7 separate regions of the Homo sapiens genome follow, and regions 1, 2, 3, 4, 5 and 7 are each linked to region 6. The links come from fine-mapping of genetic effects on gene expression. A gene starts in region 6. Each other region holds a variant in brackets. All regions are shown on one strand. Distances are from middle to middle.

Region 1 (4,000 bases), 420 kb before region 6:
TGCTTGTTTTTGTCAGGTTTGTCAAAGATCAGATGGTTGTAAATATACGGCATTACTTCTGAGGGCTCTGTTCTGTTGCATTGATCTATATCTCTGTTTTGGTACCAGTAGCATGCTGTTTTAGTTACTGTAGCCTTGTAGTATAGATTGAAGTCAGGTAGCATGATGCCTCCAGCTTTGTTCTTTTGGTATAGGACTGACTTGGCGATGTGGACTCTTTTTTGGTGTCATATGAACTTTAAAGTAGTTTTTTCCAATTCTGTGAAGAAAATCATTGGTATCTTGATGGGGATGGCATTGAATCTATAAGTTACTTGGGGGGCAGTATGGCGATTTTCACGATATTGATGCTTCCTACCTGTGCAGTTTTGAAACTCTCTTTTGTAGCAGCTGCAAGTGGATAGTTGGAGCCCTTTGAGGCCTATGGCAGAAAAGGAAATATCTTCACACAAAAACTGCACAAAAGCAATGTGAGAAACTTCTTTGTGATGTGTGCATTCATCTCACAAAGGTGAACCCTTCTTTTGATTGAGCAGTTTAGAAACACGCTTTTTGTAGAATCTGCAAGTGGATATTTGGAATGCTTTGAGGCTTATGGTGGAAAAGAAAATATCTTCACATAAAAACTACACAGAAGCATTCTGAGAAACTTCCTTGTGATGTGTGCCTTCAACTCACAGAGTTGAAGCTATCTTTTCATAGAGCAGTTTTGAAACTCCCCTTTTGTAGAATCTGCAAGTGGATATTTGGAGCCATTTGCAGCTTATGGCGTAAAAGGAAATGTCTTCACATAAAAGCTACACAGAGGCATTCTGATAAACTTCTTTCTGATGTGTGCATTCGTCTCACAAAGTTGAAACTTTCATTTGATTAACAGTTTTGAAACAATATTTTGGTAGAATTTGCAAGTGGATATTTGGAGCGATTTAAGTCCTATTGTGGAAAAGGAAATATCTTCACATAAAAACTACAAGGAAATATTCTGAGAAACTTCTTTGTGATGTGTGCATTCAACAAACACAGTTCAAACTTTCTTTTGATTGAGCAGTTAGGAAAGACTCTTTTTGTAGAATCTGCAAGTGGATCTTTGGAGCGCTTTGTGGCCTACTGTGGAAAAGGAAATATCTTCACATAAAAACTACCCAGAAGCATTCTGAGAAACAAATTTATGATGTGCGCATTGAACTCACAGAGTTGAACCTATCTTTTGATTGAGCAGTTTTCAGTCTCTCTTTCTGTAGAATCTGCAAGTGGATATTTGGAGCCCTTTTCAGCCTATTTTGGAAAAGGAAATATCTTCACATAAAAACTACACAGAAGCCTTCTGAGAAACTTCCTTGGTGTGTGTGCATTCACCTCACAGAGTTGAAGCTATCTTTTCATAGAGCAGTTTTGAAAGTCCCCTTTCGTAGAATCTGCAAGTGGATATTTGGAGCCATTTGTGGCTTATGGTGTAAAAGGAAATGTCTTCACATAAAAGCTACACAGAAGCATTCTGATAAACTTCTTTGTGATGTGTGCCTTCATCTCACAGAGATGAAAGTTTCATTTGATTAACAGTTTTGAGACAATCTTTTGGTAGAATTTGCAAGTGGATATTTGGAGCGATTTAAGTCCTATTGTGGAAAAGGAAATATCTTCACTTAAAAACTACACGGAA[G/A]CATTCTGAGAAACTTCTTTGTGATGTATGCATTCATCAAACACAGTTCAAACTTTCTTTTGATTGAGCAGTTTGGAAAGACTCTTTTTGCAGAATCTGCAAGTGGATATTTGGAGCGCTTTGTGGCGTATTGTGGAAAAGGAAATATCTTCACATAAAAACTACCCAGAAGCATTCTGAGAAACTTCTTTATGATGTGTGCATTCAACTCACAGAGTTGAACCTATCTTTTGATTGAGCAGTTTTGAAACACTCTTTTTATAGAATCTGCAAGTGGATATTTGAAGCGCTTTGAGTCCTATTGTGGAAAAGGAAATATCTTCACATAAAAACTACATAGAAGCATTCTCAGAAACGTCATTGTGATGTGTGTATTCATCTCACAGAGTTGAAACATTCTTTTGATTGAGCAGTTTGGAAACAGACTTTTTGTAGAATCTGCAAGTTGATATTTGGAGCGCTTTCAGGATTATTGTGGAAAAGGTAATATCTTCACATAAAAACTACATAGAAGCATTCTGAGAAACTTCTTTGTGATGTGTGCATTCATCTCAGAGAGTTAAACCATTTTTTTCATAGAGCAGTTTAGAAACACTCTTTTTGTAGAATCTGCAAGTGGATATTTGGAGTGCTTTGAGGCCTATTGTCAAAAAGGAAATATCTTCACATAAAAACTAAACAGAGGCATTCTGAGAAACTTGTTTGTGATGTGTACATTCATCTCACAGAGTTGAACGTTTCTTTTGATTGAGCAGTTTTGAAACCCTCTTTTTGTAGAATCTGCAAGTGGATATTTGGAGTGCTTTGAGGCCTTTTGTGGAAAAGGACATATCTTCACATAGAAACTACGCAGAAGCATTGTGAGAAAATACTTTGTGATGTGTGCATTCAACTCCCAGCGTTGAACCTATCTTTTGATTGAGCAGTTTTGAATCTCACTTTTTGTAGAATCTGCATGTAAATTTTTGGAGCCCTTTCCGGCCTATTTTGGAAAAGGGAATAAGTTCACATAAAAACTATATAGAAGCATTTTGAGAAACATTATTAGGACGTGTGCATTCATCTCACAGAGTTTTACCTATCTTTTGATTGAGCAATTTTGAACCACACTTTGTATAGAATCTGCAGGTGGATATTTTAAGCACTTTGAGGCCAATCGTGGGAAAGGAAATATCTTCACATAAAAACTACACAGAAGCATTCTGAGAAACTTCTTTGTGATATGTGCATTCATCTCACAGAGTTGAACATTTCTTTTGATTGAGCTGTTTTGAAACACCCTTTTTGTAGAATATGCAAGAGGATATTTGGAGCGCTTTGAGGCCAATTCTGGTAAAGGAAATACCTTCACATAAAAACTGCTAAGAAGCATTCTGTGAAACTTCTTTTTGATGTGTGCATTCAATTCACGCAGTTGAACCTACCTTTTGATTGAGTAGTTTTGAAACTCTCTTTTTGTAGAATCTGCAAGTGGATATTAGGAGCACATTGAGGCCTATTATGAAAAAGGAATTATCTTCACACAAATCTACAAAGAAGCATTCTGACAAAATACTTTGTGATGTGTGCATTCAACACACCGAGTTGAAAATTTCTTTTGATTGAGCAGTTTTGAAACTCTCTTTTTGCAGAATCTGCAAGTGAATATTTGGAGACTTTTGCAGCGTGTGCTGGAAAAGTAAATATCTTCACATAAGAATTACTCAGAAGCATTCTGATAAACATTTGGTGATGTGTGCATTCATCTAATAGTGTTGAACATATCTTTTGATTGAGCAGCTTTGAAACTCTTTTTTTCTAGAAACTGCAAGTGGATATTTGGAGCCCTTTGCGGCCTATGGTGAAAAAGGAAATATCTTCAAATAAAAACTACACAGAAGCGTTCTGAGAAACATCTTTGTGATGTGTGCATTCATCTCACAGATTTGAATATTTCTTTTGATTGAACAGTTTTGAAACACTCTTTTTGTAGAATCTGCAAGTGGATATTTGGAGAGCATTGCGGCCTCTAGTGGAAAAGGAAATATCTTCATATAAAAACTACACAGAGGCATTCTGATAATCTTCTATGTGATGTGTACAGTCATGTCACAGAGATGAAACTTTCTTTCGATTGAGCAGATTGGAAACACTCTTTTTGTAGAATCTGCAAGTGGATGTTTGGAGAGCTTTGAGGCCTCGTGGAAAAGGTAATATCTTTACGTAAAAACTACACAGATGCCTTCTGATGAACTTCTTTTTGATGTATGCCTTCAACTCATAGAACTGAACTTATCTGTTGACAGAGCAGTTTTGAAAACCATTTTTTGTAGAATCTGAAAGTGGATATTTGGAGTCCTT
Region 2 (4,000 bases), 130 kb after region 6:
GAGAGGATCGCTTGAGCCCAGGTGGTTGATGCTGCTATGAGATGTGATTGCACCACTGCACTCCAGCCTGGGCAACAGAGTGAGACCCTGTCTAAAAACAAAAACAAAAACCTTTAGAAACAGCATACACAGCATCTGGGATTTTGTAGATGGAAAGAAATTGTGATTCTTGACTTCTAACTTGAAAGAACCCAAAGAAGAAGAGCATTTGATTAATTGCCCTAAAACCAGGTGCAGAGTTACCATCTCTTATCTGCACCAAGATCCAAAAGCCTTTGAATTCCAAAAGTTTTGTCCTAAGTTTGGGGAATAGTCATTTGGCAGCAAAATCTAATCAGAACTGACATGAGGCTATTATAATCTTTATGAATCTCACTGCATGTGACTTTCATACAATTTTCTGCAGGAAGTGGATATGTTATAGCAAGCAGTGTTACCCCAGACCGTGCAGGGGGCATTATGATAAATGGTCTAGAATGCGCATATAACTATATAAAATTGGAAAATCCTGAATTCAGAGGCATAACTAGCCCCAAGATTTCTGATGGACCCATGCAGCTTTGTGTTCTTTATCTTCATTTCTTGGAGGTAGTTACACCAGCCAATTGTTAAGACAGCCATGTCACTGAAGAAAAATGAGAAGCTTTTATCAGAAGAGCAAGCTATGACCCCAGAAGACTTGTCAGAAAATAGTACATGTTGCAGGAGGCTAGAGGGTGGGAAGGGGAGAGAAAGCAGAAGAGATGGGGGCAGAGAGAGATAGAAAGAGAGTGGGTTTATGAGTGGGAGAAAATTGCTTTGAGATTTTAATACTTACACTTTTAATAGGTAAGAGCCTATTTATTTTTTCCTTTAGATGGTACAGGAACAGACACTAGGAATCCTTATAGTCCTGGAATTTTCTAGGCCTGTATCTCTTTTATACACTTAAAATATGTTTTAAGTGTATGAAGGAGTTTATGAAAGTTTAAGTGTATGAAAGTTTTTAAATATATCTTTTTAAAAGCTTTATCTCAGTTCATTTGTATGATTGTATGGCATGACTCAATATAGTACTTAAGTATTAAATACAGTAAACATCTCTCCAAATCTTCTTCTCCTTGGAATTTGAGACTTTTATTAAAGAAAATGAAGTAAGTTATTTTCTTTGTTTTAGTCAACAGAAGTAAAGTTTCATGTGCTCCTTTTCTTTACACTTCTACAGTTTGATGTTCTTGCATCAGCAGCTGCAGAGCAGTCTGAATAGTTTATACATGTGATGAGAGCATTATTTTCATTGGCATTTCCCACGTCCTATGAGGTCTTTCTCCTAGCTCCATCTGAGCGTGCCTCTGGAGATCTGAGAAAGTGACAAATGATGACAGATGAGATAAATTCATCTCATTAGAGGCTTGGTCCATGTAGGACAGTTCTACTGCGCATGTGTGTAAGCATTTTTCCCCAGAGCAGTTTTGAAAATTAAGACTCATAAACATTTGTTAAATTATCTTATTCCCCTAGGATATTTATACTTTGTTATAAGAAAACGCATCTTAATTTTTTTTTGTTTTTGCCTCTTTAACACTGAATGGTCAATGCTAAAACCAGGTTCTGTTGCTATCTGAATTGCATCTTTTCCTGTTACTAAAGTTAGGGGAGTTTTTCTGTAACGTTTGTTAAATGATTCATGAATTGCTTGCTCTGTCTGCTTTATAAGCTATTGGATAAATGTCGGCACTGCATTCGCTTGTAGGAAATACCTTCCAGATCTAGTCTTTAGGTTTGCAAGTGTGAACTTTGGTGAGACAACAACCCTTGGGGTTACATATTTAACGAGAGAGATTGGGGATGGTTGATGACTGTGATAGCTCGTGGAGTGGGTGGTGATGGTGCTCTGGGTATGGAGGTGAGGGACGTGTTAGGCAGCCCTCCAGACTTTTTTATGCCCATCTCTTGTTGGAGACTGTCCATTACTTTCTAGTTGCATTAACTAGGACCAGCAGTTAATGGACAAGCAAGAAGGGAGTTAGATAAAAATGGGTGAATATGGATTAAGATGTGAAGATGAATTTTATTATTATTATTATTATTATTATTATTTGAGATGGAGTTTTGCTCTTTTTGCCCAAGCTAGAGTGCAATGGCACGATCTCCATTCACTGCAACCTCCACCTCCTAGGTTCAAGCAATTCTCTTGCCTCAGCCTCCCGAGTAGCTGGGATTACAGGCGCGTGCCAACACGCCCAGCTAATTTTTTGTAGAAACAGGGTCTCACCATGTTACCAGGCTGGTCTCGAATTCCTGACCTCAGGTGATCTGCCTGCCTCAGCCTCCCAAAGTGCTGGGATTACAAGCATAAGCCACCTCACCCAGC[C/T]GATTAATTTTAAATTATATGGGAGAATAAGAAAGAACAGGTCATTTGTGGTTATAGTTGTGGTCCTATCTCTTTTTAATTAATCTTTTACCTGAAGTTACTTAATCTTTTTTTTTTTTTTTTTTTTTTTTGAGATGGAGACTCACTCTGTCACCCAGGCTTGAGTGCAGTGTTGTCATCTCGGCTCACTACAACCTCCTCATCCCAAGTTCAAGTGATTCTCCTGCCTCTGCCTCATGAGTAGCTGGGATTACAGGCTCCTGCCACCATGCCCGCCTACTTTTTGTGTTTTTAGTAGACACGGGGTTTCACCATGTTGGCGAGGCTGGTCTTGAACTTCTGACCTCATGATCCACCTGCTTTGGCCTCCCAAAGCGCTGGGATTACAGGCATGAACCACCGTGCCCAGCCTCTCTTAATCTTGATAACACTCTTTTCAAGCAGTTGCTTTACATATTGAGAAACTAAGACATGAATTTGTTTTTTTTGTTGTTGTTTTTTGTTTTTTGATACGGAGCTTCGCTCTTGTTGCCCAGACTAGAGTGCAGTGGCATGATCTTGGCTCACTGCAACCTCTGCCTCTTGGGTTCAAGCAATTCTCTTGCCTCAGGCTCCCAAGTAGCTGGGATTACAGGTATGCGCCACCATGCCCGGCTAATTTTGTGTTTTTAGTAGAGATGGGGTTTCACCATGTTGGTCAGGTTGGTCTCAAACTCCTGGCCTCAGGTGATCCACCCACCTCAGCTTCCTAAAGTACTGGGATTATAGACATGAGCCACTATGCCTGGCCTCACTTAATTTTGATAACACTCTTTTCAAGCAGTTGCTTTACATATTGAGAACCTAAGACATGGATTTGATATCTTTGGTAAGCGCACACAACCACTAGGTAGTTGAGAGAGAATGCAGGAATTTATCCAGAGCTGAGGAGAGACTATCCTCACTCTTAGGCATTTAAAGTTGATTGGGAAGGACCAAACTGAAGATCCACAGAGATGGGTGGTCAGGGCTGCTATAGTTGAGGTGTGTCTCAGAATGATAACATGTTGACATAGGCATGGATTGGAATGTACAGAAAAGGAGAATGGTGAGGCTTGTGTGTGCTTGAAGTCTGGAGGTTGCGCATGGAAGGATGAGTGGGAGATGAAAGGAGGCTGCACAAGTGGGTGGATAGCAGTAAGAAGAATTTATGGGTGATTGGGACTCACGAAAGCCTTGGTGGGTGAGGGTGGACCATGATGAAAGATGTGTAAGGAACTATAGATGCTTTGGTGAGGAAAGGAGAGAGGAAGAGTTTATTGGTGCTGAATTGGGAATGTTCTAGAGGTTTGTAATTTTTTTTCTACCCAGTTTAAAGATGAAACAGTGAGGAACTTTTGAGTCAAATGGATCTATACTGAATCTCCCAGTTTGCTACCTAAAGATCAAGTTACTTGATAATTCCTAGCTAAAAAAGTAAAGAATACTTTTAGAGAGTAGATCCAGAAGTCAATCACATACACAGCCAGTGCTAGAATTCTCTTTTTCTTTTTTTCCTACTGCAAATAGCTTTGCTAGTATATTTTTGTGGCAGGGGAATAAATAGGTTTATGTCCATTAGATGTAAATGAAAAGACTAGGAGATACACAGTTACGTTCAACTTTGAG
Region 3 (4,000 bases), 59 kb before region 6:
TGGTGAATCAAAACTCAGGTTTCAGTCAGTGAGATGAATCCATACACCACAAAGCATTATCACAGATAGCTTCCTTCTAGTTTTCATTGTGGGATATTTGATTTTTCATTATAGGCCTCAATGTGCTTAGAAATGTCCATTTGTATGTTCTACAAAAAGAGTGTTTCCAGCCTGTTGAATCAAAAGATTGATTTAGCTCTGTGAGATGAATGTTCACATTGCAAACCACTTTCACAGATAGCTTGTTTGTTGTTTTTATCATGGGATATTCAGTTTTTCACTAGAGGCCTCAATGGACTCAGAAATGCCCCTTCATAGATTCTACAAAAAAAGTGTTTCTAACCCTTTGAATGAAAATAGAGTTCTAACTCTGTGAGGTGAACCCACAATTTACAAAGCATTTAATCAGAGAGCTTGTTTCTTGTTTTTATAGTGGGATATTCAGTTTTTTACTATAGGTTTCAAAAGACTCAGAAATGTCACCCAGATGTTTCTATCATTAGACTGTCTGGGGTCAGTCAGGAGTCTCTCCCATTAGAATGCCTGCTGTTGCTCAGGAGTCTGTATAATTAGATTGCCTGTTGTCGGCCAAGAGTCTCTTTCATCAGAATGCTTGGGATCATCCAGGTGTCTCTATTCATAGGACACCTGTGTTCACCAGCAGTCTCTCTATTAGAATGCTTGGTGTTGGCCAATAGTTTCTTGAATTAGAAGGCCTGGGGTCACCTAGGTGTCTCTATTATTAAAATGCTTTGCCTCACCCACTTTTCTTCATCATTAGAATGCTGGGGTTGGGCCAAGAATCTCTCCCATTAGAATTCCTATGGTTTCCCAGGTGTCTCTATCACTAGACTGTTTGTGGTTACTAGGAGTCTCTTTTTAGAATGCCTGGGGTTTGCCAGGAGTCTCTAAAATTAGAATGCCTGGAGTCTCCCAGGTATTTCAATCGTAAGACTGCCTGGGGTCAGCCAAAACTCTCTCCCATTAAAATTCCTGTGCTCTTCCAGGTGTTTCTATCATTAGACTGCCTGTGGTTGGCCAGGAGTCTCTCCCATTAGAATACCTTGGGTCACCAAGGTGTCTATATAGGCTGCCTGATTTCAGCTGGAAGTCTTTCTGATTAGAATCTCTGGTGTCAGCTGGGGTTCTCCGCTATTAGAATGCCTGGGGCCACCCTGGTATCTCTTTAATTAGACTGCTTGTTGTCAGCCAGGAGTCTCTTTAATTAGAATGCTTGGAATTGCCCAAGCGTCTGTATCATTAGATGGCCTGGGGCCAGCCAGGAATCTCTCCCATCAGAATGCATGAGGTTTGCTGGGAATATCTAAAGTTAGAATGCCTGAGGTCACTTAGGTGACTCTATCATTAGAATGCCTGGGGTCAGCCGGGAGCCTCTCCCATTAGAATGCCTGGGGTTGTTCAAGTTTCACTATCACTAAAATGCCTGGGGCTGACTGGGGTCTCTCCCATAAAAATACCTGTGGACAGCCAGATATCTCTATCATTAGACTGCCTGAGGTCACTCAGGAGTCTCTATCATTTGATTGCCAGGGGTCAGCCAGGAATCTCTCCCATTAAAATGCCTTGGGTCGTTCAGGTGTCTTTATCATTAGAATGCCAGGATTGGGGGGCCTCTCTAATAAAAATACCTGGGGTCGCTGAGGTGTCTTTATCATTAGGCTGCCTAGGGTTGCCAAGATGTCTTTATCATTAGAATTCCTGAGTTCAGCCAAAATTCTCTCCCATTAGAATGCCTGTGGTTGCCCAAATGTCTTTATCATTAAAATGCTTGGGGTTGGCCAGGAGTCTCTCCCATTAGAATGCCTATGATCACCCGGGTGGCTCTATCATTAGACTATCTGAAGTCGGCCAGTAGTCTCTTTCATCAGAATGTTTGGGTGGCCCAGGTGTCTCTATCATTAGACTGCCTGGAGTTGGTCTGGATTCTCTCCAGTTAGAATGCCTGGGTTCGCTCAGCTGTCTCTATCACTAGAATGCCTGGGGTCATGCAGGAGTCTCTTCTATTAGAAAGTTTGGGGTAGCCCAACTGTCTTTATCATTAGACTGCCTGGGGTTGGCCAGGAGTCTCTCTCATTAGAATGCCTGGAGTCACCCAAAAATCTGTATAATTAGACTGCCTGGGGTTGGCCAGGAGCCTTTTCCTTTGGAATGCTTGGGGTCACCCAGGTGTCTCTATCATTAGACTGCCTGGGTTTGGCAGAACGTCTCTCCCATTAGAATGCCTGTGGTCATGAAGGAGTCTCTATCTTTAGACTGCCTGGG[G/T]TCAGACAAGATTCTCTCCCATAAGAATCACTGGGTTTGGCCAGGACCCTCTCCTATCAGAATGCCTGAAGCTGCCTAGATGTCTCCATCATTAGACTGCTTCGGGTTAAATGGGAAATTCTCCCATTAGAATGCCTGGGTTCACCCAGGTGTTTCTATCATTAGACTGCCTGGGTTTGGCCAGGTGTCTCTTTCATCAGAATGCCTGGTGCTGGCCAGGAGTCTCTCTTATTTGAGTGCCTGGTGTCGTGGAGGTGTCTATATCATTACAATGCCTGGGGCCACTCAGGTGTCTCTATCATTAAAAAGCCTCAAGTTGACCAGGAGTTTCTCTCATTAGAATGTCTGTGTTCACCCAGTTGTCTCTATCATTAGACTGCCTGGGGTCGGCCGGGAGTGTCTGTCATTAGAATGCCTGCAGTCGCCCAAATGTCTCCGTCATCAGACTTCCTGGAGTCAGCAGGGAGTCTCTACCATTAGAATGCCTGAGGTCTCTCAGGTGTCTCTATAATTAGATTACCTGGGGTCAGCCAGGAATCTCTCCCATTAGAATGCCTGGAGTTTCCCAGGTGTCTCTATGCATAGACTGCCTCTTTCAGCCAGAAGTCTCTCCCAGTAGAATGCCTGGGTTCTGCTGGGAGTCTCCCCTTTTAGAACGCCTGAAGACACCCAGGTGTCTCTTTAATTAGACTGCCTGGGGTCAGCCAGGGGTCTCTTCCATTAGAATGCCTGTGCTCGTCAAGGTGTCTCTATCAATAAACTGCCTGCAGTTTGCCAAAAGTCTCTCACATTAGAATGCCTGGGGTCAAGCAGGTGTCTCTGTTATTAGCAAGCTTTGGGTTGGCCAGGAGCCTCTCCTATTAAAATGCCTGGAGTTGAGCAGAAGTGTCTCCCATTAGAATGCATGTGGTCGCCCATTTGTCTCTATCAATAGACTGCCTGAAATTAGACATGGGTCTCTCCCACTAGAATGCCTGGGGTCGCACAGGTATCTCAATCATTAGATTTTTGGGGTTGGCTGAGAGTCTCTCCCATTAGAACACCTTCGGTCACCCAGGTGTTTGTTTCATTAGACTGCCTGGTATTGGCTGGGAGTCTCTCCCATTAAAATGTCTGGGGTCTCCCAGGTGTCTCTATCAATAGACTGCTTGGGTCCGTCAGAAGTCTCTCCCATTAAAATGCCTTGGGTTGGATGGGAGTCTCTATTATTAGAATACCTTTGATTGCCCAGGTGTCTCTTATCAGATTGCCTTAGGTCAGCTAGGAGTCTCTCTCATTAGAATGCCTGTGGTAGCCCAAGTTTCACTTTCATTAGACTGCCTATGGCCGGCCAAACTTCTTTCACATTAGAATGCCTGGGATCGCCAGCTGTCTCTATCATTAGACTGCCTGTGGTCAGCCAAAAGTCTCCCATTAAAATGCCTGGGGTCCCCTAAGTGTCTCTATCATTAAACTGCCTGGGTTCGTTATGGAGTCTCTCTTATTAGAATGCCTGGAGTTACCCAGGTTTCTCTATCCTTAGACTGCCTGAAGTTTGACAAGAGTCTCTCCCATTAGAATCACTGGGGTTCACCAGGAGTCTCTCACATTAGAATCCTTTGCATTGCCCAGATGTCTCTATCATTACAATGATTGGGGTGGCCCACTTGTCTTCATCATTAGAATGCTGGGGTTCAGCCAGGAGTCTCTCTGATTAGAATGCCTAGGTTTGCCTGGG
Region 4 (4,000 bases), 52 kb before region 6:
GGTCACACAGGAGTATCTCTTATTAGAATGCCTGGGGTTGCCCAGGTGTTTCTATCATTAGACTGCCTGGAGTCAGCTAGAAATCTTCCCCATTAGAGTGCTTGGGGTCACCCATGTGTCTCTACCCATAGACTGCTTGGGTCAGCCAAGAGTCTCTCCCAGGTTTCTCTCTCATTAGACTGCCTGGTGTCAGACAGGAGTCTCTCTCAATCGAATGCCTGGTGTCAACGGAAAGTTTCTCCCATTAGAGTGCCTGGGTTCTCACAGGTGTCTCTATCATTGCAATGCCTGGGTTGCCCATGTGTCCCTATCATTAGAAAGCCTCATGTCTGCCAAGAGTCTCCCGCATTAGAATGCCTGCAATCGCCCAGGTGTCTCTATTATTAGATTTCCTAGGGCTGGCCAGGAATCTATCCCATTAGAATGCCTGGGGTCCCTTAGGTGTCTCTATGCATAGATTGCCTGGTGTAGGCCACGAGTCACTTCCATTAGAATGCCTTGGGCCGGCTAAGTCTCTCCTACTAGAATGCCTCAGGTCACCCAGTGGTCATTTTAATTAGACTGCCTGGGGTCGTCCAAGAGTCGTTATTATTAGAGTGTGTGTGGTCACCCAGAGGTCCCTATCAATGGACTCCCTGGGTTCAGCCAGGAGTCTCTCCCATTAGCATGCCTGGGGCCACCCACCTTTCACTTCAATTAGACTGCCTGTGGTTGGCCAAAAGTCTCTCACATTAGAATGCCTGGGGCCACCCAGGGTTTTCTATCATTAGACTGCATGTGGTCAGCCAAAAGTTTCTCCCATTAAAATTCCTGAGGTCCCCCAAGTGTCTCTATTATTAGACTGCCTGGGTTCGGCTGGGAGTCTCATATTAGAATGCCTACAGTCACCCAAATTTCCCTATCCTTAGACTGCCTGAAGCCAGACAAGAGTTTCTCCCATTAGAATCGCTGGAGCTTGCCAGGAGTCTCTCACATTAGAATGTCTGGGGTCACTCAGGTGTCTCTATCATTAAAATGATTGGGGTGGCCCACTTGTCCCCATCATTAGATTGTCAGGGTTTGGCCAGGAGTCTGATTAAAATGCCTTGGGTCGCCTGGGAGTCTCTTTTATTAGAAAGCGTGGGGTCGCTTAGGTGTCTCTTATTTAGACTGCCTGGGGTTTCCCAGGTGTCTCTATCATTAGACTGCCTGGGGTTGCACAGGTATCCCTATCACTAGAATGCCTGCGGTGGTCTGAGAGTCTTTCCCATAAGAACACCTGGGGTCACCCAAGTGTCTCTTTCATCACACTGACTGGTGTTGTCTGGGAGTATCTTTCATTAGTGTCTCTAACATTAGATTGCCTGGGGTCGTTGGGGAGTCTCCTCCATTAGAATGACTTGGGTGGCCCAAGTACCTCTATTTTTAGACTGCCTGGGGTGGGCTGAGAGTCTCTCCTATTAGAATGCTTGTGGTCGCCCAGGAGTCTGTATAATTGAGCTTCCTGGGTTCGACCAGGGCTCTCTCCCATTAGAATGCCTGGGGTCGCCCAGGAGTCTCTATCCTTAGACTTTCAGATGTCAGATGAAAGTCTCTTTCATTAGAATGCCTGGGGTCGCCAAAGTGTCTCTATAATTAGACTGTCTGGGTTCGGCCAGGTATGTATTTCATTAGAATGCCTGGGGTCGCTTAGGTGGTCTGTATGCATAGACTGCTTGGAGTCAAACAGGAGTCACTCCCAATAGAATGCTTTCGGTCAGCCGAAAGACTCTCCTATTAGAATGCCTGGTGGCACCCAGGGGTCTTTAATTATACTGCCTGAGGTCGTCCAGGCGTCTTTCTCATTACAATGCCTAGGGTCACCCAGATGCCTCTATCATTAGACTGTCTGTGGTCATCCAGGAGTCTCTTTCACTGAAATGCCTGCGGTTGCCTATTTGTCTCTATCATTAGACTGCCTGGGGTCAGCCTAGCAATAAATGAAAGTTTAAGCTATACTAAACCCAGGGTTGGTTAATTTCATGCCAGCCACTGCGGCCATTAGTCTCTCCCATTAGAATGCCTGGGGTCACCCAAGTTTCTCTATAATTAGACTGTGTGAGGTCAGCCAGGAATCTCTCCCATTAGAATGCCTCCAGTCACCCAGGTGTCTCTATCAACAGACTGCTTGGGTCAGCCAGGAGTGTCTCCCATTAGAATGCCTTGGGTCAGCTAGGATTCTCTCTTATTTGAATGCCTGGGGTCGCCCAGGTGTCTTTTTAATAAAACTGCATGCAGTTGGCCAGGAGTCTCTCCCATTAGAATGCCAGGAGTTGCCCATTTGTCACTTTAATTAGACTGCGTTTAGTCGGCCAGGAGTCTCTCCTATTAAAATG[C/T]CTGTGGTAGTCCAGGTATGTCTATCATTAGACTGCCTGTGCTTAGCCAGGAATCTCTCCATTAGAATGTCTGAGGTTAGCCCTGAGTCTGTAACATTAGAATACCTGTGGTTGCCCAGGTGTCTCTATCATTGAAATGCTTGGGGTTGCCCACTTGTCTCTATCATTAGAATGCCTGGGGTGGGCCAGAAATCTCTCTCATTAGAATGCCTGTTGTCACCCAAGTCTCTATCCATAGACTGCTTGGGTTGGCCAGGAGTCTCTCCCATTAAAATGTCTGGGTCTCCCAGTTTCTCTATCATTAGACTGTCTAGGGATGACTGGAAGTCTCTCCCATTAGAATACCTGGGTTGCCCACGTGTCTCTATTGTTAGACTGCCTGGCATCAGACAGGAGTCTCTCATTAGAATGTCTGATGTCAACCAAAATTCTCTCCCATTAGAATGCCTGGGGTCTCACTGGTGCCTAAATAATTACAATGCCTGGGGTCTCCCAGGTTTCTCTATCATTAGAATGCCTCGGGTTGGCAGAGAGTCTCTTGCATTAGAATGCCTGCAATCGCCCAGTTGTCTCTATCCATAGACTGCCTGGGGTCAACCGTAAGACTCTCCCATTATAATGCCTGGAATCGCCCAGGTGTCCCTATGCATAGACCGTCTGGGGTCGGCCAGGAATCTCTCTTATTAGAATGCCTGAGGTCGCCCAGGTGTCTCTATCAATAAACTGCCAGAAGTCTCCCCCATTAGAATGTCTGAGATTGGGTAGGAGTCTCTCTTATTTTAATGCCTGGGGTCACCCAGGTGTCTATTTAATTAGACTGACTGGGGTCGGCCAGGGGTCTCTCCCATTAGAATGCCTGGGATCACCCAGGTATCTCTATCATTAGACTGCCTATGCTTAGCCAGTTGTCTCTCCATTAGAATGCCAGAGGTTGGCCAGGAGCCTCTCACATTAGAATTCCTATGGTCACTCAGGTGTCTTTATCCTGAAAATGATTGGAGCCACCCACTTGTCTCTATCATTTGAATGCCAAGGTTTGGCCTCGAGTCTCTCCTATTAGAATGCCTGGGGCTGCCTAGGTGAGTCTGTCATTATACTGTCTGGGGTTGTTTGGGAGTCTCTTCCATTAAAATGCCTGGTGTCACCCAGGTGTCTCTATCTTTAGGATGCCTGTGGTCGGCTGGGGGTCTCTCTCATTAGAATGCCTGGTGTCAGCCAAGAATAACTCCCATCTGAGTGCCTGGGGTCCACAGGAGTCTCTATCATTGAAATGCCTGGGGTCACCCAGGTGTCTCTGTCATTACAATACCTTGGGACGACCAGTAGTAGTCTCTTCCATTAAAATGCATGGGGTCACCAACTTGTCACTTTAATTAGACTGCATGGGGTTGGCAAGCAGTCGCTCCCATTAGAATGCCTGCGGTCACCGGTCACCAAGGTGTCTCTATCATTAGACTGCCTTGGGTTGGTTGGGAGTCTCTCCCATTATAATGCCTGGTGTTGCCCAGGTGTCTCTATCATTAGACTGCCTGGGGTTAGATAATATTCTCTTCATTAGAATGCTTGGGTTTGCCCAACTGTCTTTAATATTTGACCACCTGGGGTCGGCCAAAAGTCTCCCTTATTAGAATGCCTGGTGTCAGCTG
Region 5 (4,000 bases), 24 kb before region 6:
TGTCTCTATCATTAGACTGCCTGTGGTCAGCAAGAAGTTCTTCTCGTTAGAATGTCTGGGGACGTTAAGGTCTCTCTATCATTAGACTGTCTGGGTTCGGCTGGAAGTCTTTATTATTAGAATGCCTGGGGTTGCACAGAGGTCTGTATCATTAGACTGCCTGAGATTGGCCGGGAGTCTCTTTCAGTAGCATTCCTGGGTTCACCCAGGTTCTCTATTATTAGACTGCCTGGGGTCAGCCAGGTGTTTCTCTCATTAGAATGCCTGGGATTGGACCGGAGTCTCTCCCATTACAATGCCTGGGGTTGCCCAGGTGTCTCTATCATTAGACTGCCTGGCATCCGCTGGGAGTTTCTTTCATTGTCTGGTGTTGGCTGGGAGTCTCTGCTATAATATCGCCTGGAGTCGCCTAGGTGTCTCTTTAGAATGCCTGGGGTCGCCCAGGTGTCTTATTAGACTGTCTTGGGTTGGATGGGATTCTCTTCCATTAGAAAGACTGGGCTCAACAAGGTGTCTCTATCATTAGAATGCCTGGGGTTGGCCGGTAGTCTTTCCCATTAGAATGCCTGGGTTCTCTCAGGTGTCTCTTTAGTTAGACCACCTGGGGTCAGCCAGGAGTCTCTCCCATTAAAATGCTGGGGTTTGGACCAGAGTTTTTCCCATTAGAATGCATTGGGCCGCCCAGGTTTATCATTAGACCGCCTGGGGTCGGCCAGGAGTCTCTTCCATTAGAATGCCAGATGTGGCCCAGGTTCTTCTATCATTAGAGTACCTGGGGTCGGCCGGGAGTCTCTCACATTTATTAAACTGCCTGACGTCAACTGGGAGTCTCTCACATTAGAATTTTTGGGGTCACCCAAGTATGTCTATTATTAGACTGCCTAGGGTCGGCCATGAGTCTCTTTCATTAGAATGCCTGTGATCGCCAAGGTGTCTTGGCGAATGCTAACGTGTTTCTATCCTTAGACTGCCTGTGGTCAGCAAGGAGTCTCTCCCATTAGAATGTCTGTGGTCACCCAGGTGTCTCTAATCTTAGACTGCCTGTGATCGCCCAGGAGTTCGATTTATTAGAATGCCTAGGGTCTCCCAACTGTCTCTATCATAAGAATGCCTGAGGTCGTTCAGGAGTCTCTTCCATTAAAATGCATCTGGTCGCCCAGGTGTCTCTATCATTAGAATGAATGGGGTCACCTGGAAGTTTCTCCCATTGGATTTCCTGGGGTCCCCGAGGTGTCTCTATCATTAGACTGCCTGGCGGTCCACACAAGTCTCTCCCATTAGAAAGCCAGGGGTCGACCAGGTGTCTCTATTATTAGAAACCCTGGAATCAGCCAAAGGTCTGTCCCATTAGAATGCCTGGATTGCCCAGGTGTCTCTATCATTACAATGCCTGGCTTCAGCCAGCAGTCTCTCCCATTATAATACCTGGTTTTGCCCAGGTGTTTCCATCATTAGACTGCCCCAGGTCAGCCAGAAGTGTCTCCCATTAAAATGCATGTGTCTCTATCATGATACAGCCTGTGATCAACTGGTAGTTTCTCCCATTAGAATGCCGGGAATCACTCATGTGTTTTTATCATTAGACTACTTGGTGTCGGCTGGGAGTCTTTCCCATTGGAATGCCTTGGGTCGTCCAGGTGAATTTATTATTAGACTGTCTGGTGTCTGCGGGAGTCTCTTCCATTACAATGCTTTGAGTTGCACTGGTGTCTCAATCGTTAGACTGTTGGGTTCTGCCAGGAGTGTCTCCCATTACAATGCCTTGGGTCACCCTGGTGTTTTTATAATTAGATTTCCTGGTGTCATCTAGGACTCTTTCCTATTAGAATGCCTGGAGTCGCCCAGGTGTTACTATTCTTTGATTGCCTGGGGTCAACCAAGGCTCTCTTCCATTAGAATGTCTCAGGTCGGCTGGGAGTCTTTCCCATTAAAATGCCTGGAGTCGCTTAGGTGTCTCTATCATTAGAATGCTTTGGATTGGCCAGTAGTCTTCCCCATTAAAATGCCTGGGTTTGGCCAGGTGTGTTTATAACTAGACTACCTAAGGTAGTCTAGGGTCAGCCAGGAGTCTCTCCCATTAGAATACCTGGGTTCAGCTGATAGTCTCTGCCATTAGAATGACTGGGGTCACCTAG[G/GT]TTTTTTTTTTTTTATAATTAGACCACCTGGGGTCGGCCAGGAGTCTCTCCCATTTGAATGCGTGGGGTCACCCAGGTGTCTCTATAATTAGACCACCTGGTGTTGGCCAGGAGTCTCTCCCATTGGAATGCCTGTGGTCGCCCAGGTGTCTCTATTATTAGAATGTCTGTGGTTGATCGGGAGTTTCTCCAAAATGCCTGTAGTTGATTAGCTGTCTCTATTATTAGAATGCTTGGGTTCGAGAAGGAGTCTCTTCCATTTCAATGCCTAGGGTTGATCAGTTGTCTCTATCATTAGAATGCTTGGTGTCAGCCAGGAGTCTCTTCCATTAGTATGCCTGGGGCCATCCAGGTGTCTCTATCATTAGACTACCTTGGGTCAGCCGTTAGTCTATCCCATTAGAATGCTTTGGTATGCCCAGGTGTCTCTATCTTTAGACTGCCTGGCTCAGCCAGGAGTCATTCCCATAAGAATGCCTGGTGTCAGCCGGGGGTCTCTCCCATTAGAATGCCTGGGGTTGCCCAGGTGTCTTTATAATTAGACTGCCTGGGATTGCACAGGATTTTCTCCCATTAGAATGTCTGGGGTTGCCCAGGTGTCTCTATCATTAGACTGCTGGTGTTCGGACAGGAGCCGCTCTCATTAAAATGCCTGCAGTCGCCCAGGTTTCTCTATCATTAGACAGCCTGGAAACGGCCCAGAGTCTCTCCCATTAGAATGGTGTCTCTCCTGGGGTCAGCCAGGAACCTCTTCCATTAGAATTCTTGTGATGGCCCACATGTCTCTATCATTAGACTGCCTGGGGTTGGTCGGGAGTTGCTCCCATTAGAATGTCTGGGGTAGCCCAGGTGTCTTTAATAATTAGACTGCCTGGGGTTGACCAGGAGTCTCTCCCATTAGAACACCCGTGGTCACCCAGCTGTCTCTATCATTAGACTGCCTGGGGCCAGCCAGGAGTACCTCTGTTAGAATACTTGAGTTTACCTGAGAGTTTCTCCCATACCTGGGGTGGCCCAGGTGTCTCTATCATTAGAATGCCTAGGGTCAGCGGGGAGTCTCTGCCATTAGAATGCCTGGGGTTGGCTGGGAGCCTTCCCATTTGAATGCCTGGGGTCGTCAAATTGTCTCTATCATTAGACTTCCTGAATGTAGCAGGGCATCTCTCACATTAGAATGCCTGGGGTCACCCAGGTATCTGTATCATTAGACTGCCTGGGGTCAGCCAGGAGTCTTTCCTATTAGAATGCTTAGGGTCACCCAGGTGTCTCTATCATTAGACTGCCTGCTGTCACACGGGAGTCTTTCTCATTAGAATGCCTGGGGTCACCCAGGTGTCTCTATGATTAGACTGCCTGGGGTTGGCCAGGAGTCTCTCTGGTTAGAATACCTGGGGCCACCCAGGTGCCTCTATCATTAGACTGCCTGGGGCCTGCCAGGGGTCTCTTCCATTAGAATTCCTGTGGTCGTTCAGGTGTTTCTATCATTAGACTCCCTGCGGTTGGCCAGGAGTTCCTCCCAGAATGCCTGGGGTCTCCCAGGTGTCTCCATAAATAGACTGCCTGGGGTCAGCCAGAAGTCTCTCACAAGAGAATGCCTGGGGTAGGCTGGGAGTCTCCACCATTAGGAGGCCTGGAGTCACGTAGGTGTTTCTAACATTAGAATACCTGGGGTCATCCAGGCTTCTCTCCCATTAAAATGTCCGGGCTCACCCTTTGTCTCTATTATTAGACGTCTGCCATCGGCCCAGAGTGTCTTCTATTAGAATCCCTGTCGACCAGATGGCTTTCACCTTGCCATGTCTAATGTTGATCAGATGGCTCTTGCCTTACCATGTCTAAGGTTGCCCAGACAACTTGGGCCAGAA
Region 6 (4,000 bases):
GACACATTTAAAAAAGTAGATGTGGCCAGGCATGGTGGCTCACGCCTGTAATCCCAGCACTTTGGGAGGAGGAGGCAGCCGGATAACGAGGTCAAGAGATTGAGACCATCCTGGTCAACATGGTGAAACCCCGTCTCTACTAAAAATACAAAAATCAGCTGGGCGTGGTGGCGCATGCCTGTAGTCCCAGATACTTGGGAGGCTGAGGCATAAGAATCGCTTGAACCCAGGAGGTGGAGGTTGCAGTGAGCCGAGACAGGCCACGGCACTGTACAGCCTGGTGACAGAGCGAGACTCTGTCTCAAATAACTAAAAAAGAAAAAAAGAAAAAGTAGGTGTAAAACTATCCATAGTAGATACTCTCATTTACATAAAATCCAGTAAGAAAACAAAACTGAAGTTCTGGCTTCCGGTAATACTGGAGTAGCTTGCTAAACTAACACTCTCACAGATAACAATGATACAATCTGGATAAAATATTATATATAGTTACATAGAAACATTCATCTATATACAATACATACATACGTGTGTGTGACTGAATGAGAATTTCAACCTTTCCCACCGTAGGGAAGATAATTATTCTGTTTGAATTCAGCCACATTTACCCCCTCTTCAAATAATAACAATGCTCTTCCAAAGAATACAACAGAATTTAGTCTCTATAACTAATATTTATAATTTCTATTACACAATATTAAAATTCATAAAATGTGTGAAGAAATGTAACATGCAAACTATACACAAGATAAAAAGCAGGCAGCAGAAGCTATTTCTAAGATGTCCGAGATGATGTAATCAGCAGACAAGTATTTCAGGGCAGCTATTATAAGTACGTTCATGGGGGTAAAGGAAAATATTCTCATAATGAATTAACTCATGTAGAGTCTCAGCAGAGACATGGAAATTATAAAAAGAGTAAAATAGAAGACAATAAAATAATAAAATAAAAAGAACTTTTAGTTTACAGAGTAGAAACAGAAGACAGCAATATAAACCATCCAATCTGAAGACTGAAACAAGTTTAAAGAAAATGAAAAGAGGCCTAAGAGACCTGTGAAATGATTGAGTCTGAGACAGAGAGGGAGAGACAGAAAAATTAAATATAATACAAAAACAAATAAACAATAGCTGAAAATTTAAAAACTTGGTCAAAACCGCAAATTCTTATATTCAAAAGGTGAACACACTCCAAAACAAAAACAAAAACAAATAAAACCATATCGAGGCCCTACTGTGATTTAGAAAACTGGCAGAGCAAGATTTTCCAGGGAGTTGCTATGATTTCTCATTTTCACTATTTATAATAATGGAAAATATGCACTCCTTAGTTTTCTTCTTGGAGAAAGTCTGACTTGTCAAACACAGATGACTTTTCAGTTTAGTTTTCAAGGTTTAATTTCTTACCTTGGAAATCAATTAAATTTGTTTCTTTAAAATGTCGCAGTAAAATTGCTCCTCCAGACAGATGTCCACGGAGATTCTGTCCTGCTGCGTCCGCCTTTCACAGAACTGAGGTTGTTCCTACACCAGTTTCAGAAGCGTGTAGGCACGCTTTATTACAGTGGCAGCAGCGTCCCTGTGCGAGGTCTAACCCAGGTGTGGGCCCTGCAGCCAGCCCGGGGGTCCAATGGGTCCTCCTATGGAGCACAGGAAGAATCGTGGCAGGCCAGAGATAGACAAAAGGTGGCTTTTAAAAGGGAAGTGTCAGGTTACCAGGGACTGGGTACTTTTACACGCGGACCTTCGGCCCTGCCCATAGAAAGGGGCAGCACTGCGCATCTCTGAAGGAGTGTGGCAAAGGGTGGGGCAATAAGAAGGGTGGGGCAGAAAGGAGTGGCCCCTCAGGAGGAAGGGGCGGGGAGATCCCAGCTACTAGAGGACGCCCGTTCCAATGGCAACTCTGCCAAGGCGCCTATGAGAGCCTCTTGGCTTTTACCTGGTCTGCGAGAAATCAAACTTTGGGCACAAGTCATGAAGCCGACAAGCCCGGGAGACACAGTGTCAGAATTACAAGGTGAGATCAGCCGCCCGGCCAAGCTATCTTCTCGCTAGCAGGTGAGGCCCGTGAACAGCCAAGCTCCCCTTGGCACGGCGGAACCGCAGTGGACGCGTGGAGGGGCTCCGTAGAGGAGGGACCTTTGCTTGGGATGCGGGGAGCTGTAGTCTCTTATCTGCACCCAGCTTGTTAGTTGTACGCCTGCAGGACTACAATCTCAGCACAAAGCAGGATTGTAGGGCGGTGCGGATCCCTGGAGGGAGACAGCGCGGTGCGCTCCTGCCGGCCATGCTGGCTGGGGTGGTGTCTTAGGCGGTTCCAGCCGTTAGTCACAGGGCGGCCGGACTACAATCCCAGCATACAACGGGAGTGGAGGTGGTGACCTTGAGAGAGGGCCTGTGCTGTGCGCGCCTCGCGGGGCATGCTGGGAGCAGTAGCATCTTAGCTGCTTCCGGCCGCTGGTCGCAGGGCTGCGGGACTACAATCTTCGCATGAAATGGAAGAGAGGGTGGTGCGGATAGCTTGAGGAAGGTACGGATACCTTGAGGGAGGTATGGATACGTTGAGGGAGGTACGGATACGTTGAGGGAGGTTACGGATACGTTAAGGGAGGTACAGCAGCGGTGCGCGCCTTGCAGGGCATGCTGAGAGGAACAGTTTTTTAACTGCTTCTGGCTGTTGGTGGCAGAGCTGCGGGACTACAATCCCAGTATGCTACGGGAGTGGGGATGATGCTGGTCCCTTGAGGGGGGGGGGCAGCGCGGTGCCCTCCTGCCGGGCATGCTGGTAATAGTGTCTTAGCTGCTTCCGGCCGTTGGTCGCAGGGCTATGGGACTACAGTCTCAGCATGCGCAGGGTTCAAGGGTGTTGCGCAGCCCCGCAGGGAGGGGCAGGGCGGTGTTGACCTCTGTTTCCAAACCCATGCTGGCTACTGAATCTGTGCCACCCCTGGCTAAGGGGAGTGAGTCCATAGAGGGACTTGAAGGGCAGGTCTGGGCTGGGCAGTGAGGAGAGTATGATACTGCAAAGTGCGCCTCGCCTTTGCCAAAATCGGTCGGGTCTCAGGCTCACCCCACCTCCCGCTGCTCAGTTCCGTTTCCCTCCAGAGCATCAAGCCTCCTCCCGCCCAGGGGGCCTCCTGCTTTCCTAAGCTGCTGTGGAATCGGCCTGAGGTCCCAGACGCTGTCCATTGTGCTGCTGCTCTCTGCTTTCTCCAGCCAGAGTGCCAGTTCATCCGCTTTTGGGAGAACTCCGCCGCCTGGCCTGCCCGCGGAAAAGGTCACAGCTTTGCAGGGGGTGACATGGGCTATGGCTTCCTGGAAATGTCACCCTCACTAGCGCCTTTTAGATAGATGTGAATTTTGAGACATGAGGGAGAGTAATTATTGGTTTACCCAGGAGATGCTAAGAGCAGAGGAGAAAACCCTAATTTCCAGGCATGTGTCCTGAGCCAGGGACAGGCTGGCCAGACCCTAAGCCCCCAGTGCCGCCAGAGAGCAGCCTACTGCCCTGATTTGTGTGGAATCCCCTTCGTGCTGCTGGGCCTTAGCGTCAGGGACAGCCCAGTCAGGTGAAGGTGGGGATGACCCATGGGCTTCTGGAAGTGGGTTGGTGGTCCTGGGAGGGCCAGCCCATCCCCCCTTGGAGAGGGTCTTTGTGCTGAAGGATGCCCACAGAGGCCTGGGTACCAGGAACACTGCTCTAGGCAAGGTGCCTTTCTTCCAGATTTGGCTGAAAGGAAGGAAGACTTGGTCAGCTTTTCCACCCAGCCATCTGGCCCTTACAGGGCTGCTCCCCATGGACCTGGGTTTGTAGAGTCCTCCAGGGCTTTGTGTGGCCCACTAGTTCTGATACTGAGGACACCCCTGCAGGCTGTTAATTTCAGAACAAGGGGTGTGTGCAGACTGGGGCATGGGTGCTGTCAGGGTACCCCAGGCTGCTCCAGGGACGGTACCCCAGTGTTCAACTTGGCTTGGGGCCCCCTGCCTCATGCCCTTACTC
Region 7 (4,000 bases), 86 kb before region 6:
ATCTTTCCGGAAGATAAGCAGCCTAGACTTGAGTTTCCAGATGGATGCAACCAGGTGCATGTCTGAGGCACAGAGACGGGTATTTACAACCCATGGTAACATTAAATGCAGTGCCTTCTTCTCCTGGTTGAGCAGGGCAACGGTCATCTGTGGCTCCAGGCAGTCACACACTATCGTTAGTGTAGATTTGTGCAGGAGCATCTACCCTGGTGAGAGGTCGAATAAGTGGAGGAAGAGGCACATAAGCCCAATAAGAATAATTATGTGTAGCAGGTAAATCAGTGTGAGAGGAAACTGGTGAGACAGAAAGTATAAGGAGGAGAATCATTAAATAAAACCTAGTGTAAATGAGATTGAAGGCTGAAGGAGGAAGAGAAGAACAGAGGGATGTTATTTTCAGGCTAATAGAAATGGTGAGATTTTTAGGTTTGTAAGGAGAAAAAGAAAGGTAATCAGGAGAAGTGGGATTAGTTAGATGGGTCTCCATTGCCATCAGGGAGGATTGATTTAAATCCATTGTGATTTGGTGTGCCTTTTTCTGAGCAGTTGGCACAGATCTTACCACTTCTGAAGGTAGTCTCTGACACAGACGTCTTTTCTCTGTGGTTTTCATTGTCAGTGTTCACCCGAAGCTTGAATCTTCTGGTGGGTTCCCAGACAGGGGATTGATGATCTCCTGGTGAAACCAGGCATATCCTCTTCCCTACGTTATAATTGTGCCAGATTCCCAGGTATTGGCTTGGGAGTTTTTCCATAACACTGGTTTGCCTTCGTTTAAGGAAAATTTTTTGCCTGTATAATGGCGTTCAGCTGCAGTTAGAGTATTATCTTTAGAAACATTTAAAAAAATTAAAGTAAACAATGCCAAATGTAATTGGGAGTGGGGAGTAGTTAAATCATGTTTAGGTTGTTCAGACTGTTTGGACAATTGGGTTTTTAAAGTGTGATTGGCCCGTTCCACCACAGCCTGTCCCTGAGGATTGTAAGGGATTCCAGTAATATGGGAAATTCCCCACTGTTGCATAAATGAATCAAAAGCCTTACTAACATATCCAGGGACATTGTGTCTTTATTTGATATGGAAGCCCCATAACTGCAAAGCAAGAATACAGATTTTTTTTAACATAGGCCCTGCCTTCCCCTGTTTGGCAAGTAGCCCAGATAAAACCTGAGAAGGTATCTGCAGAGACATGCACATATGACAGTATGCCAAAGGAGCTAACATGAGTCACATCCATTTTCCATAAAGCATTAGGAGTTAGGCCTCTAGGATTAACACAAGGTTCCTGATTTGGAAGTACGAAGACCTGGCACTGAGAGCAGCCGTGAACAATAAACTTAGCCTGTTTCCAGGTAAGAGCAAATTTATCTTTTAATCCAGCGGCATTGACATGAGTGAGATTATGGAACTCCTGAGCTTCTTGGGTTGTAAAAGAGACCAAACAGTTGACTTTATGGTTACCAGCAGACATGGGTCCTGGTAAAGTGGTATGAGACCCAATATGTGTAATATAGAAAGGGTGTCTACGTTGGTGAACCACCTGTTGTAACCTTGAAAATAAAGAAGCCAATTCAGAATTATCAATGTGTTTGATAGCAGCAGTTTCTATATTTTTAGTGGCATGTACAACATAAGCAGAATCTGAGACAATATTTAAAGGTTTGAGGAAATCCTGTAAGGCAGTAATCACAGCAATTAACTCCACCTTTTGAGCAGAAGCATAAGAGGTAGAAATAAGTTTGTCTGTAGGACCTATGTAACCAGCATTGCCATTACTGGAGCCATCAGTGAACACTGTAATGGCCTCAGGAATGGGTTGATCTTTGGTTAATTGAGGAACCACCCAAGACGTCATTTATATAAAAATCAAACAATTTGTTTTTTGAATAATGATTGTCAATAACGCCAATAAAATCAGCCAAGTGAATTTGCCACAGTACAGAATGTTGAAAGGCAGATTGAACTTCAAGCCAATTTAAAGGAAGTACAATTACATTTGGATCAAATCTAGAAATTTGAAGTATTCTACACTGAGCCTGCCCAATTAATATGGCTATTTGGTCTACATAAACAAAGTTTTGGACATAGAATGAGGAAGGAAACG[C/T]CACTCCATTAAATCATTATGTTGAACTATTAGTCCAGTAGGGGAGTGTGATGAAGCAAAAAACAGAAACTGAAAAGGCTGAAACGGCTGTACTCTAGATAACTGGGAGGTCTGAATTCTTTCCTCTATGAATTCCAGTTCTAGTAAAGCCTCAGGGGTCAAAGTCCCGGGGCTGTGGAGATCGGAATCTCCCCACAGCATAGAGAACAAGTTACACAGCGCATAAGTTGGAATGCCTAAAGTAGGTTTTAAATAATTTACGTTACCCAAAAGGTTTTGAAAGTCATTTAAAGTGTTTAAAGAATCTCTCCTAATTTGAAATTTTTGAGGTTGAATACATTGTTTATCGATCACCATTCCTAAATATTGAACAGGAGTGATCTGTTGAATTTTATCCTGAGCGACGTGTAATCTAGCCTCTGTAACACAGTGGCTTAAAATGTGGTAACAGTCAATTAATTCTTTATCATTGGGGGCAGCAATTAAAATGTCATCAATATAATGAAGAATATACACCTCAGGAAATTGGGCTTGAACTGGTGAAAGCTCTTGTCCAACATAAAGCTGGCAGATTGTAGGGCTATTTAGCATTCCCTGAAGAAGTACTTTCCAACAATTATGAGCTGCAGGCTCCTGATTATTGATAGATGGTACAGTAAAAGCAAATTTTTCACAATCCGATTTATGTAAAGCAATATGAAAAAAAGCAATCTTTAAGATCAATAACTATGAGAGGCCAATTTTTAGGTATTAGAGCAGGGGCAGGCAAGCCAGGTTGGACGGCCCCCATAGGTTTAATTACAGTGTTAATGGCCCTTAAATCAGTTACCATCCGCCATTTGCCTGATTTCTTTTTTACTAGAAACACAGGAGAATTCCAAGGGGAAAGAGAAGGTTCCACATTTCCAAGTTGCAACTGCTCAGAAACCAATTGATTTAAATCTCCCAGTTTTTCTTTAGAAAGCGGCCACTGCTGAACCCAAACAGGTGTGTCAGATTTCCATTGCAAAGGAATAGGATCAGGAGGCGTGGCAGCAGCTGCCACTAAAAAGGATAACCTAAACCAGCCCTGTTTTCTTTTATAGTAACTGGGAGGGGTTTACTAATCCCCTCGTGCTGTGGTCTGAGACCGAGTCCAGGAACAAACCCCATATTTTCCATCATATGCTGACTGGGAGCATTATAAGAGTTACGTGGAATATTAATTTCAGCCCGCCATTGTGCCAGTAAATCTCTACCCCAAAGATCAATGGGAATTGGCATGATATAGGGCTGAATTTTACCCTTTTGACCATCAGGGCCAGTGCAAGGCAAAATAAATGTGCTCTCATAAACTTCCTTGGCCTTTCCAACACCTACTAGTCCCATGTTAGTGGGATGTTTAAGCCAAGAGGAAGGCCATAAACTAGAGGAAATAAGAGAAACATCACCACCAGTATCTACTAAGCCCTCAAACTTTCTTCCTTCAATGTGTATGGTGCAGGTGGGCTGTTGTTTAGCAATTACATTAATCCAATAAGCGGCCTTTTCACTGCCAGAGCCCATCCCAGGGCCATGTGTCTTATCTCTTTTGTTTAAAATGATATTAGGTAGTAAAAGCAATTGAGCAATTGACTCACCAGCCAGAATGGAAACAGGAACCTTGGCAGACACAATTAATTTAATCTCGTCAACGGAATCAGATTTAATGAGACCAGTTTGAATGGTGACTCCCTTAGCAGAGGTGGATGCTCTACCTAACACCCGGCCCACCGAACCTTGAGATAAAGGGCCAGTGACCCCCGTGGGGACAATCAAGGGCAAAGAATCAAGAAGTAAATTCAGAGGAATAGTACTACAGATATCAACCATCCCACCTCCTACTGTGGAGGTTGACAAGCATTGTAGTGAGACAG

Direction of the effects. Alleles are on the strand shown, and positions count from the first base shown. SD is a standard deviation of normalised expression in the study named. Not every link is listed here.
With allele G in place of GT in region 5, the expression in lymphoblastoid cells of the gene that starts at base 2,348 in region 6 is lower (moderate effect, 0.42 SD a copy in TwinsUK).

The links. PIP is the estimated chance that this variant, and not a neighbour inherited with it, causes the effect. A credible set is the group of variants that fine-mapping cannot tell apart.
Region 1: its variant is the best candidate, but not a certain one, in a credible set for the expression of LINC00662 in esophagus muscle (GTEx, PIP 0.89).
Region 2: its variant is the best candidate, but not a certain one, in a credible set for the expression of LINC00662 in blood mononuclear cells (TOPMed, PIP 0.79).
Region 3: its variant is the best candidate, but not a certain one, in a credible set for the expression of LINC00662 in testis (GTEx, PIP 0.59).
Region 4: its variant is the best candidate, but not a certain one, in a credible set for the expression of LINC00662 in whole blood (INTERVAL, PIP 0.60).
Region 5: its variant is the best candidate, but not a certain one, in a credible set for the expression of LINC00662 in lymphoblastoid cells (TwinsUK, PIP 0.55).
Region 7: its variant is the best candidate, but not a certain one, in a credible set for the expression of LINC00662 in whole blood (INTERVAL, PIP 0.70).

The regions. Positions count from the first base shown.
Region 1 is chr19:27,375,861-27,379,860 of GRCh38, forward strand. No RefSeq gene overlaps it. Among named protein-coding and RNA genes, the nearest start is that of LINC02987, 420 kb to the right of the region's middle. The variant G/A (reference allele first, on the strand shown) is at 1,661.
Region 2 is chr19:27,921,888-27,925,887 of GRCh38, forward strand. The region is part of intron 2 of LINC02987 (long intergenic non-protein coding RNA 2987); the gene reads left to right. Among named protein-coding and RNA genes, the nearest start is that of LINC00662, 130 kb to the left of the region's middle. The variant C/T (reference allele first, on the strand shown) is at 2,354.
Region 3 is chr19:27,732,797-27,736,796 of GRCh38, forward strand. No RefSeq gene overlaps it. Among named protein-coding and RNA genes, the nearest start is that of LINC02987, 59 kb to the right of the region's middle. The variant G/T (reference allele first, on the strand shown) is at 2,284.
Region 4 is chr19:27,739,860-27,743,859 of GRCh38, forward strand. No RefSeq gene overlaps it. Among named protein-coding and RNA genes, the nearest start is that of LINC02987, 52 kb to the right of the region's middle. The variant C/T (reference allele first, on the strand shown) is at 2,355.
Region 5 is chr19:27,767,699-27,771,698 of GRCh38, forward strand. No RefSeq gene overlaps it. Among named protein-coding and RNA genes, the nearest start is that of LINC02987, 24 kb to the right of the region's middle. The variant G/GT (reference allele first, on the strand shown) is at 2,136.
Region 6 is chr19:27,791,593-27,795,592 of GRCh38, forward strand. It overlaps LINC00662 (long intergenic non-protein coding RNA 662), which reads right to left and starts at 2,348. Exons shown (of 3, transcript NR_027301.1): 1 at 1,940-2,348; 2 at 1,408-1,640; 3 at 1-309. It overlaps LINC02987 (long intergenic non-protein coding RNA 2987), which reads left to right and starts at 1,839. Exons shown (of 7, transcript NR_146733.1): 1 at 1,839-2,017. RefSeq lists enhancers at 2,081-2,560, 3,727-4,000.
Region 7 is chr19:27,706,032-27,710,031 of GRCh38, forward strand. No RefSeq gene overlaps it. Among named protein-coding and RNA genes, the nearest start is that of LINC02987, 85 kb to the right of the region's middle. The variant C/T (reference allele first, on the strand shown) is at 2,106.